3 separate regions of the Homo sapiens genome follow, and regions 2 and 3 are each linked to region 1. Evidence: fine-mapped expression QTL. A gene starts in region 1. Each other region holds a variant in brackets. All regions are shown on one strand. Distances are from middle to middle.

Region 1 (4,241 bases):
TGTTACCCTTTCGGTGGCGAGGTCAGTTTCCGGGAGGCTCTGCAACACTGATATTTTCCAGATGTTTCTCCTCTTCTCCCTTCTCTGGCTGGCTATATCTTCCTCCCTTCATCCTGCTCTTTCAGTGAAATTGAGATAACATGTTAGAATCTTAGGCAGGTTAGAATCTCTCAGCAGTAGGATGTGATTTAATATCTAGACCTCTTACATTAATATTTATAATAGCCTTCACTGCTTGTGAATAGCATAAGCACTCTTTTCTGTTCAAAGTCAATACTGAAATAAAACCCAAGAGTATGTTTTATAAAAATTTACTTTTAATGGTGCAATGGTAATAATCTATGTAGTCCTTATGGTTTTCAAATCCCTTTGTGCTTATATTACCTTATTTAATACAGACATAAATCTGTGAAGTAAATAATACTATTTTTATCTTCATTTTACAAATGAGGAACTGGAGGCTCAGAGAGGTTAATTTGCATAAGGTCATACAAATGATAGATGGCAGAACTGGATTTAAGTTCAGACTCCTTAAATCCATGTCTTTTGTACGTTCTTTTCACTAAATTTGCCATAGTGTTTCTATTGGTTTTTGCCTATATAAAATCGGAAACGAAGAAAAAGAAACGAACTGGAAAATAAATTTGTCAAAAGAGTATATTTTTTTCTCATAATTTCCAAGCGGATCTTTCAGATATGTTATTTGAGGACTTTTTGCCTCAGACTGGCGATAAAACAAGTGTTCTACAAAATACCTCCGTAAGACAGGCCTATCAGTGGCAGCTCTTGTCCCCGCTTTGCAGAAGGGAAAACCAAGGCTCCACAGAGCTAAGGGGACTTCCTCTCAGCCAATTTGTAGGGGCCTGTGGGCCAGACCCGGGGGCAGAATTGAGATCTGTTGTGAAGGCTGTCCGGCTTCTTTATTCTATCAGCATTTCAAATCCTGAAAACCTCCCCTTTGGCATTTTGAAGGAATTCATCCCCAGTTTTTGCTGGTAGCCGGGAGGGAACCGTGCTCTCCCCCTGAGGAAGGCCCTTTGGAGTAACTGCAGCAATGAGTGCCCGGGCTGTGCTTGGAGTACCAGTGCTCGCCCGGGGCTATACTGAATGAGTAAGCAGCCCCGTCTGCTTTTGCTGTGCAAAGGTAAGGGTGGAGGCCGCTCCACTTTCTTCAAAAGGCCCCGCTCTGGGACTTGTGAAATTGTGCTCTCTTAAGCTGGTCCTTGCAACCCCATGGACGATATCCATGCGACTTTCCTACAAAAATAACATACCAAAGCCGCTTTAAAATCCGTAATTTTTGGGTTGCAAGACTCCAAGACAAAGTCAAATGGGCATCAAAAAATGTAATCCAAAAATACAGAGGCATTGGTTCTACCCTATATGCATTTGCTATTTATGTAAAACTACAGTGTGCTCTGAGATGAGACTTTTTTTTTCTTTTTATACCTTTTTTTCCGCCCGTCTGGTGCGTTTGCCGACGGTTCTTCTCGGCCCTGTGTCTCGGGAGAGTCGGCTGCCGTCTGGGCCTGTGCCCCACCTGCGTGCGCCCGGGCCGAGCCAGCCCCGCCAGGTCGCCTCCGCCCGGCTGCCGGCCCGAGCGCGCGGCTCCGGGGGCGGACTCCCGCCGCCCAGCTGACACGCGATTCGTCACTCTTGCAGAACTTTCCCCCTGAAAATCCCTGCACCAGAACCCGCTCTCCCGCCCCGGGGAGGTTTTGATTTTAGTGGCTTTCTTCCTTTTATTTTCCGTCGTGTGCGGATTTCGCTGCAGAGCGAACTTGCGGCTCGTCCGAGTACATGTGAGCGGTAATCGCCCCTGCAGCTGGTTATCCTGACATTATGCACTCCGAAGCAGAAGAATCCAAGGAAGGTAGGATTCTGGTTTCTCCTGGGGGCCGGCCAAGTTCTGCGGAGGAATTTGGAGGAAGGCAGTGGTAGAAGAGGATGGGAGTTTTAAAGTGAGCGGTGGGCACTTTGTCCGCTTGCCCTGCGCCTTCGAAGCCAAGTCGGAGCTGGATAAGCGGAGCCCGGGTCTCATCTTGGGCTCCCTTCTCCCCCCGCAGCCGTTCAGAGGGGAGGGGAGGAAAAGTCGGACCTAGTTCAGCCAGCCCACTAAGTCTGCTTTTTAGCTTTCTCTGGAAACGAAAGAGCCCCACTTGGACTCCAAGAATGCAAAATGTGCTTGGAAAAGGGCTGCCTGCCTGCATCAGAAAGACTGAAAGCGGGATCCCTGGAAGAGCCCTGAGTGGAGGGTCCCTTGAAAAGGGGTTTGAGAAATTAGAAACGCTATATGTTTCCGGCTAAAAGGGGAAGCTGAGTGAGGGGAAGCGAAAATCTGTATTTGAGAAATAGATTAATTTTTTTTCATTGCTGGGTTTTCAGCAGTGAGTTCATTTCGTTGGGGGTTTGAGGGGGCTGAAAGATATGAGGGGGTCCTTGTGCAGCTTGAAACTGAGAAGAGTTTGTCTGTTTCTAACTTCGCAAAAGCAAAGGGTTTCATTTACTCCTAACAGAGAACAGGTGACAGGGCTGGAAAAGCTCCAACCAAAACACAATTATACGCTGGTGTTAGTTTGGGGAGTTTATTTGTGTGTGAGTGTTTGTATGCTTTGTTCCTTGAAACTTTATGTATACAAAAGTTCTCTTGTAAGTGGGGGGTGGGAGTAAGGGTGGTTGGGGAAAATTAGAGAGTAAGAGAGGAGACTATTCAAGATTGTGAAATACTCTTTCTTTTCATGTAGTCTCTTGGAAAGCTGGTTAATTTCAAGTCAATCACAGCAGTTCTGGCAGAGGAGCAGCCCCATCATTTCTCCATTTGGTAGACACCAGTTAGGAAGAGCCCTTGAAACTTGTCCTCTTCTGCCTTTTACTGATTCCCCTCCCAGAGGAAAGCTTTGTGTTTCACCATGTAGTCTTTGTGGGCTCACGTTTACCTTATTATGCTGTGTGAGGGAAATAGTCAATAAAAAGGAGGTTTGTTTAATAGAAATACGGGGCTGGCATGAATGAAAAATGACAGCCAGGAGCATTGTTTTTGAGTTTGATGTGGAGTATGGGGGGAGTAATGCTTTCTTGCCGTGTCCTGTGTTCTGATGGAGCTGTGTGCTGATAGATGCTTTTCTTTTCTATGTCTTTATACCAGCAGTTTATTCAAAGTCAAAGGTAGTTGAAGGCAAATAGGAACCAGGCTGAGAGAACTCAAGGGTGAACTTCTGTGTGAATTACAAGTAGCACTTAAGCTGGCGTTTTCTCTCAGGTGTGTTTTCCCTGTCTTTTGAGAAAGAGAGAGTGGGAGAGAAAGTGGAAAAACAGTATCCCAAAGTGTGTATTATACATTCCCATAGCAACATCCACAGTCTTCCCTCCTCGAGGGCCCAGCTCTCTGGTTTTAAGTTTGGAAGCAGCCTGCAAACTGGCCTATGAAGAGGTTAATGGGGCCCCTTCTGCTTGTTCCTCACCTTCCCTCCACTTGTCATCATTTACATTCTGCAGATCGGCCACAAATGATATGGCGCTCTGCTTTTTAAAGAAAGCCCAGAATGTTTCTTTTAAAATAATCTGAGGTAGTAGAATTTTAAATTGATAGCAATTAGGGTGGGATACTGAATAACTCTTGAGGGAGATTGAACACTTTATTAATCAGATAGAATCATATAGCTTCTGCCAGGAAATGAAGGATAGGTGTCTGTGTGTTTTGGGTGTGTTTTCTCCAAGGCTGGTTCATTGGCTGTAATCTAGAACCTTCTGGTTAGCTACCACCACTCAGATGTCGATGAAGCGAGCTATGTTGTGTAAATAACTCAGTTATCTTCTCTATCGTTACTAGTCCTTTTCCTCTTATACGTAGCTTTTTTTTTTTTTTTCATCCTGGTGAACTTATGTATCCCATTTAGTGTGAGATCACCATGAGTTCTTAAGAATGTCTGTATTGCAAGAAAACTGCCTTTGGATGCTTCATGCCTGATACGCTGTAAGAGGAGATACTTTTAAGTCATTTTTCTCAACTGTAGTGAGAGACTAGTATACTTTGGGGTTGAATCTAAGTCCTTGGAGGCCAGCATATTTTTGCATATGCGTGAATGTAGAAGCAAATGACTGGGGATATTGTTAAGCCATCAGAGCTTAAAACATACTTGACTCTGTGCCAGGGGTGCTGGATATTTGTCCCCAGCCTATAGCCATCTCCTAAATAATTGATTTAATTTTTCCTGCTTAACAATGAATAAGTGATTGTGCTT
Region 2 (4,241 bases), 210 kb after region 1:
TCATTCCTTAAGTGTCTTTTTACAACACCTCAGGGACTCATCTCTTCTAGACCTCCACCCCCCTCTTTTACACTCCATATGCAAACAAATATATTTTGTATTTTTACTGATAAAATCTTATAGTTGGTATTTGTCAGGGTTCTCTAGAGGGACAGAACAGGAGAGATGTATATATAAAGAGGAGTTTATTAAGGAGAGTTGACTCACACGATCACGAGGTGAAGTCCCACAATAGGCTGTCTCCAAGCTGAGGAGCAAGGAAGCCAGTCTGAGTCCTGAAACCTCTTAAGTAGGGAAGCCCACAGTGCAGCCTTCAGTCTGTGGCCAAAGGCCTGAGAACCCCTGGAAATCTTTGGTGTAAGTCCAAGAGTCCAAAAGTTGAAGAACTTGGACTCTGATGTTCAAGGGCAGGAAGCATCCAGCATGGCAGAAAGATGAAGTCCGGAAGACTCAGGAAGTCAAGTCCTTCCACATTCTTCTGTCTGCTTTTATCCTAGCAGAGCTGGCAGCTGATTAGATAAGATGGTGCCCACCCAGACTGAGGGTGGGTCTGCCTCTCCCAGTCCACTGACTCGAATGTTAATCTCCTTTGGCAATATCCTCACAGACACACCCAGGAACAATACTTTGCATCCTTCAATCCAATCAAGTTGACACTCAATATTAACCATCACAGTTGGCAAAGATAAATTGTCTCTTGAATTAAATTCAGTTTATAACTATTTTAAAGAATAACAGCTACAAGTCTGAGACATGGGCTATTTACTCCGATTTCTATACAATAGCTTATCTATATTTTCTTTGTGGATCTTAAAAGTAAAATAATTACCATTATAAACACACTGAATTGCTGTAGAATTATGATTTTATCATTCAGCCATTTAAAAAAATCAGTTTTCAAATCTCCTAATTAAATTAATTAAAATGTTTAGTTGCTTTTTATAAATTCAATGATAATTAGTCTAATCATTTATTCAACAATTAAACTACAACAGAAATGAATTATTCAGAGCTTCATATTCTTTGTAAAGGCATTGAATTTTCTAAGTTCACTTCAACTCAACTCCACTGAAAATCAGCTCAAAACACAGGAAAGCAAATGAATATATTAGAAGTTCTGATGATCAATGGGACCTGTTTTCATGCTTAATTTCACTTTTATATGTCAAAGAATGGGTTTCATCATGATATTTCACTCCAAGGAGAGCATTAATTTATCATTATAAAGGTATCTGATATAATAATGTATTGACATAATTAATTGGTAGAATTAATATAAAGAGATTGTCCATTGCTAAAATGGATTAATGAATGTCTCAACTCAAGAAAATATGCAGACAGCTAGGAATAGCTCCCTAGTTTTGTGAGCTACCTTACCTGCTCAGGCTTATATATATTCCCTTTCTCACTTAAAGAAGGGAATGGTCTCCCTTGGCTGAAAGCTCAAGTCCATTTGCTGCTGGCAACTTGCCATGAGAACTGGGAAAGTCACTCTCCAGGCTTGCTTCCTAGCTGTTAATTTAAGAGCTTGCACTAAGTCATGGCTAGAACGTCTTCTGGTTTCAAGATTTTAGGAGTCCATAAGCATTAGAGTTTCAGCCTTGCTTTGAAATCAAGTATTTTACTTTATCAAGTAAGAGTTACACTGTATATGTATACATAACGAAAAGCAA[G/C]TGATGAAAAGGAGAAAATGGTATGATTAACATGTTAACAGTACTGGTGGGGCGAAGGTGGTGGAAACCCAAGTTTTTTAGCCCTCCTGGTCACCTCTCATTTAATATTTAAATCAAAAGAGCTTGCTTGAGTCCTTATTCTGCTTACATGAGAAATTAAAACCCCGACTTCTGATTTCATGAAGTTATTAGTCTCTCATCTCACCTCATTCAGCTATTCCCTTCTTTCATCATTGCATTGAATCCAAATGTGGAATAGCATTCTTTTTCATTGATATTTTCCACCAAACCACACCATATGTACTAGACTTACTGAAGTGTTAGGCTCAACATACAGCTAAGCTTAGCAGGCTGTTTGCACTCTAATTCTTTGAAGTGCTTGGCCAATCCCACTGCTGAAAAGTCACAAACCAGAGACCCCTCTCACATCTGCCCTCCTCATATCCCATACCTCCAGAAGCTCCCAACTTCTCCCACTTTATTATGCATAAGTGTTTAGCTCTGTTTCTCAACCAGGCCATGAGAGTGTTTCTTTTCACAGCTGATGATGGTGTTAACACGTAGATAACTAAACAAAGACGTTTCTCTCCATATGAGGAATTCTGCCTCTAGGTTACAAGTTTTTTTCCTTCTAGGCAAAGTGGGATGGCAAGGTAGGAAAGAGTGAGCAGGAAACATGGAGGTGGCTTGGAAAGAAGGAGGCCAAGAAAGGGAAATACTATCCCTGAGTTGCCCACCACTGGCAGCATGCTGTGTTGAGGGTCTTACAAATATTATCCCAGTCAATCATCTCAACAATATAATCTACCTATGAGGTAGATTATGTAATTGCCCCCCATTATAAAGATGAGTACACAGGTTTGGGGAGGTTAAGTTGCTCAACATCATATTGCTATTAAGTGGCAGACTTGAGATCTGAATATAGGCAGTCTTTTTGCTTAATCACTGTAAAATGCTGCTTTGTCTATTATGCTGGTCTGGCACGTACATTATTGCATTTTATTCCCATGAGCTACGTGCAATTTTCATCATTATTTTCTGAAAAGTAAACTTTTCCAAAGTCACAAAGTTAGGATGTAATGGCACCAGGAATCAAACCCAGCTCACTCAGCTCCAAAGTCTATGTGGCATGATAGGCTTTCCACTGAAAATATTAATGTACCTATACTTTTACTTGAGTTTAACAAGCAGAATTTATAATAATTTTATTAAAAATTTTGCAAGGTTTTGTAATAAACATCACAGATTTGCTCCTTAAGAACATTAAGTTGCCAGGCACGGTGGCTCACGCCTGTAATCCCAGCACCTTGGGAGGCCGAGGCGAGCACATCACGAGGTCAGGAAATCGAGGCCATCCTGGCTAACACGGTGAAACCCCGTCTCTACTAAAAATACAAAAAAAAAAAAAAAAAAAATTTAGCCGGGCGTGGTGGCGGGCGCCTGTGGTCCCAGCTACTTGGGAGGCTGAGGCAGGAGAATGGCGTGAACCCAGGAGGCGGAGCTTGCAGTGAGCCGAGATCGCGTCACTGCACTCCAGCCTGGGTGACAGAGCAAGACTCCGTCTCAAAAAAAAAGAACATTACGTTTACAGTGTAAACAATAGAAAGAAAAGGAGAAGGAATGCTTCAAAGAAGATGAAAGAAAACACCTTTAGATAGTAAAGATACAATTGGGCAAGAAATGCACACAGTTGGGATTGTGAGGTACTAGTATGCTAATTTCAGGATTTTAAACCCATGGATTCTAGTAGGAAACATCTTACTGTGTGCTTTAACTTGATGAAAATTAACTGGCAAGTATGAAAACATACATTGTTGTTATTTTAAATGTTGCAACTAAAATACGGAGTTTTTGCTGTCTTTTGAAATTAGAATGCCCACAGAAATATTTTACCTGTAAAAATTACAGAAAAGGCTGACAGGCAATTTGAGTCTGTTCTTAATGAGTAGCCCACCAGAGAAATGAAAAGAATTTAGAACCAATTGACTCTAATGCATCGGGGCCATCCCAATGAATGCTTCAGTCCCTTTTTTTGAAGTACCTGACATGTGTTTGTGCAGCCTCTGCTTGGTCCCCTCTGTGGATGGAGAACTCTGTTTTGTCTTAGGCAAGTAGGCTGTCGTGAGTATTAGAAAATTCAGTGCAGTGATAAAATGTGTTTCCTGATATATTCTGTTCATTTTGGATTTTGCTTAATGAAATGGGAGAATAAATTTATCCTGCTCTGTAGTGTTGGTTTAAATCCTTCGTTTTTTGAAATGTGGTCTTGCTCTGTTGTCCAGGCTGGAGTGCAGGGACACAATCATAGCTCACTGCAGTCTTGAACTCCTGGTCCCAAGTGATCCTTCTGCCTCAGCCTCCTGAGTTGCTGGGATTACAGGCTGAGACACCGTACCTGGTTCCTAAATCCTTTTTAAAAGGGAGGGAATGTGGTCCAATAGAAATGATGTTAGACTTGGGTCTCAGGGCCAGTTGTACGATACCTGAGGATCTGTTCTCTTGACTGTTCTCTTTGCCCATCTCATGGGGTTGCTTTAAGAGTCAAATGAGAATAAATATGAAAGTGTC
Region 3 (4,241 bases), 32 kb after region 1:
CTATGAAGAAGGCTGTTCTGTGATAGGGATTGTGTGAAACACATCTATGTGGTCCATGTCCATTTATCTCTGGAACAACTCCAAAAAGTGGGGATCATTGTACTTATCTTACAGATGAGGAAGCCGAGTACCAGTAATATCCCTGAGCAGTGTGGCAGTTCATGGAACCATTAGCTACAGAGTATTTGGACTTTTATAAGTATACTATAGTTTTCCAGGACCCTGGGGAAATAAGTTGCCACAGAAAAAGAACACTAGTGCATTAAAGGTTCATACTGCAGTCTTTTTAAAAAAAATGTTTTCGGTGGAAAACATTCTAATATGTGTTACAAGGTATGTTTTTTAAGAGGATAAATTCATGACTCTCATATAAATACAAATTGCACATATTGAAGATTTTACTTAACTCATTTATTAATGAGGGAACCAGTAAGCTCTTATATTTGGTTCAAGGAGGATCTTAAGAGCAGTCAAACAAGAAAATCAGGAATCAATTGCATGCAGCTCCACTGAACACATTTTATTTGTGTCTGTATGTAGAAGAGCCATTTGCAATATTATCAGTTTTCTACAATTTACAGAGTATAAAATAGCTAAGCGAAGGACAATAAAGGGAATCTGGAAGAGTGCCTTAGACAATTCCTAATACTCCCGTCAAAAGAACCCAGTGTTTTGTTTTGTTTTGTTTTGTTTTGCGGGGGAGGAGTATTTCAAAGTCACCATTTTCTCTGACATGTCTTCTTTACTATGTTGCCTTTTAAGGTTAGCATGTATTTTTCTGGAGTATAAGAAACAGAGTGAATGACTTAGCTTGCCACTGTAATGGTGCCTGTCACTGGTTCTTAACCACTTGGGGGGATGTGCATATACCCCAAAATGTGCATTCCGTATCAGGTTAAGGACTTCAGATGTATTGATTCTCCCAAGACTATGTTCTGTGTGACAGCCTCCATCTGTGTGGCATAAGGCCAATTTTGGGATTAAGGTGCCTGGCACTTGTCTTCTCTCTCTAGTTGATAAGATTGCCTCCAGCTTGCTGCCATGGTCGTTGCTTCTGACCCTTCCAGGGCAGCCCCCTTTAGAGTTCATATCTGTGCTGCTTCTACTGGGTCTCCCTCCCTCCCTCCCTCCCTCTCTTTCCTTCCTTCCTTCCTTCTCCCTCTCTCTTTCCCTCTGTTGTTTCTTCTCTATGCTGTTGAATTTCTGACTTTGGGATTTTGAGTATGAAAGCTGGTGACACTGACACATCACTAGCTACTCCGAGCGTTCATTGCTTTTCTCTGGAGCACTGCCAAATCTCCATGTAGGGAGGTCAACTCTTCGCCTGCTGACTTCTTATGACAGGGTTCGTTGTTTGTTCTGGCCACTTTCTTATCACCAAAGCTGACTTTTTACTAAGTCCCATTAGATTTAGAATTATTTAGATACAAGAGAGCTAAGGTTTTATATATTTATTTAAAGAACTTTTATTAACAGACAACAGCCAGACATGCTTTCCAAATTATTATCTTTTCTATCCTTCCTAATATTGGAAACCTGGATCGAGTTTTAACTAGGCAAGAATTTGCAATGTATGTACATCTGTTGTCATCACTGTTAAAGAGTCCCAAGTATAATAGATTTGAGGGGAAAAAATTATGTATTTACTGGTAAGACTGTAAAGAAAATGATTTGAGTACTTTATTAGAAAATTCTCAGTGGGAGTAGTTATGTTATGGGGCATTTTTGTTAATTTTCATAAAACTAAGTATTAATAACAAAGGACTTTTTTTTCCTTCTGAGCATATTTTTTCTTGAATATTTGGGTCAGTATATTTTAACCATATTTATCTCTAACTTTATAATTTTGATGCTAAAGCCAGAATTCCCTAAATATCACTTTGCCTTACAGCAAATGTTGCTGAAATGGCCAAGGGAGGAGATACAGAGACAGAGAGGGAGGGAGGTAAGATAAGTAATGTAAAATAACATTTACACCCTATTTCTAGAAAATAATCTTAAACAGTTTTAATGTGGTGGTAATGCTTTGTATTTTTTTTTAAATACAGCATTATTCTTCATTAATG[A/G]ACAATTTACATGTCTGTTTCCAAACACAAGTGAATTGATCTTAAGAGGCAAAAAACTGAATGAATATTTTCAGCACTTTCTCCTTGGGGAACATCTCCTGTTTACATCTTAGTTGCTTCCCAGGACATGCCTTAGGTATCCCTCTGGCACATGTCTAAACATAGATCCAGCCAGAAGTAGAGGTGGGCCTGTGTTTAATCTCCTGCTACAGTTCAAGTCAGAACTACACCTTGCTTTTACTCTAAATATTTGCATTATTGTCCTTGGATGTTTTCCCATTATGCACAACAAATCTCTCCTCTTTAAAAGAACTGGTTGATGACAGTAAGAGAAATCATACTCTGGAGCGCACTTAGAGGGAAGAAAAACCACATGTTTAGTGAGGTAAAACAAATACCTGTTTTTCTACCTTTTAATACAACAAACAAAAACACCCACTAATGTATTTACAACTCTCGTTTTACAGGCCAACATGTTTTCATAGAAAAGTATTTGAGTATATTGTGGATGAGATAGGGGAAATTGATTGCTGCTTCTGGACCAGCCACTCTCTAGGCCTGCAAGTTGACACAGTGAACATGATACACAGAATCTTTGCTCTCAGAGTTTAAATCCTAGTAGGGAGAGGCAGACAATAAAAATGTAGGCAAATGAAGAGGATTTAAGGAACAAGGAGGTGTGATAGTTAGCAAAGAACTTACATGAAGCATCTTTTTTTTTCTTTTCTTTTCTTTTCTTTTCTGAGACAGGGCCTTGCTGTGTCGCCCAGGCTGGAGTACAGTGGCATGATTATAGCTCACTGCAGCTCTGTAGCCTTGAACTCCTGGGCTCGGGCAGTCCTCCCACCTCAGCCCCCTGAGCAAATAGGACTACATGCCCAGCTATTTTTTTTTTTTTTTGAGTTTTTTTTGTAGAGACAGGGTCTTGCTATGTTGCCCAGGCTGGTCTCAAAGTCCTGGGCTCAAGTGATCCTCCCACCTTATCCTCCTAAAGTGCTGGGATTACAGGTGTGAGCCACTGCGCCCGGCCCCATTTGCAAATTTCATTTCTTGAAACTCTGGCTGATATGTGAAAAGAGATAGAAAGGGGTTTGGACTAGGCTGCTGTCCGTGGAGATGGAGGGAAATGGATAGAATTCAGAGAAATGCAGGAGGAAGGTGGAATGGAAAGAACTTAATAATGGACTGGGTGAGGGAGAGAATGGTATGGTGGATGATCCCCAGGTCTCTGATTTGATTGAGCAAAAGGTTGGAAGGGATGCTATTAATTGAGATCATAAAGAGTGAAAGAGGAGCACTTAGTAGGGAGGCAGGAGAGAATCAAAGATCAGTTTTGCATATGGTAAATTTGAGATGCCTGCAAAATAGTCAAGGAAAGAAAAATCTTGAATGCACTTACAAAATGAGTCCAGAAAAGAGGTCAGGGCTGAGTTATGGCTATGGGAGTCATTGGCACATGGGTGGTATCTGAAGCTGTGGCAGTGGATGAGATCACACAGGGGTGAGGATAGACTGAAGGAGAAAAACTTGATCCAGGACTAGCTCTGAGATACACCAGACTTTTAAGGGATCTGGTAGAGCATGTGGAACTGACAAATGAGCCTGCACAGGAATGGCTAACAGCAGTTAATTTGCAAGAAAAAGAAACAAACTTCATGAGCACAGACCACACATCCCTGGCCAGCGACTCTCAGCCACAAGCCCCAGTTGGCTTCAAAAAAACTTTCTCTAATGCTGGAAAATAAATCTACTCATGCATGTCTTCTTGGTGGAGGGGGAGAAAGAGCTTCAGATGGTGGAGGGGAACAAGGAGCTTCAACCTCATTTAAAAAGACGACTTCACTGGAATAACCCAAAGAATAAAAGGAAAGTGTGACACAGCTGCTGTGTTTCTGGAGCGGGGTTTGAAGTTCCTCTAGGATAAATATGAAAGCCTCAGAGATCAACTTCTCTATCTTGATTCATACTTGATTACCAGTAAATGGGGAATGATCTTGCTTAGTTGGCAGTAGATTTGCCTGTTACACACTCTCTTGCAGGAAGTTGAAGTGCTGTATCATAGAGTTTTTGTTTTCCATGTTTGAAGTTAAATGGGATATTGAGATTTAATCAGAAAAGTAGCTGAGAAGAGGTGTAAACATGAAAGTCCAGTCTTGGATAAAGGAGAAATCTTAT

The links. PIP is the estimated chance that this variant, and not a neighbour inherited with it, causes the effect. A credible set is the group of variants that fine-mapping cannot tell apart.
Region 2: its variant is the best candidate, but not a certain one, in a credible set for the expression of TNFAIP8 in whole blood (TOPMed, PIP 0.81).
Region 3: its variant is the best candidate, but not a certain one, in a credible set for the expression of TNFAIP8 in monocytes (TOPMed, PIP 0.56).

The regions. Positions count from the first base shown.
Region 1 is chr5:119,354,249-119,358,489 of GRCh38, forward strand. TNFAIP8 (TNF alpha induced protein 8) reads left to right here and starts at 1,771. Exons shown (of 2, transcript NM_014350.4): 1 at 1,771-1,873. The coding sequence starts at 1,843. LOC102723444 (a long non-coding RNA gene) reads right to left here and starts at 1,525. Exons shown (of 5, transcript XR_007058912.1): 1 at 1,450-1,525; 2 at 7-118. RefSeq lists an enhancer at 728-867 and silencers at 1,518-1,677, 2,306-2,600, 2,398-2,457.
Region 2 is chr5:119,565,302-119,569,542 of GRCh38, forward strand. No RefSeq gene overlaps it. Among named protein-coding and RNA genes, the nearest start is that of FAM170A, 62 kb to the right of the region's middle. The variant G/C (reference allele first, on the strand shown) is at 1,674.
Region 3 is chr5:119,385,848-119,390,088 of GRCh38, forward strand. The region is part of intron 1 of TNFAIP8 (TNF alpha induced protein 8); the gene reads left to right. Among named protein-coding and RNA genes, the nearest start is that of TNFAIP8, 32 kb to the left of the region's middle. The variant A/G (reference allele first, on the strand shown) is at 2,067.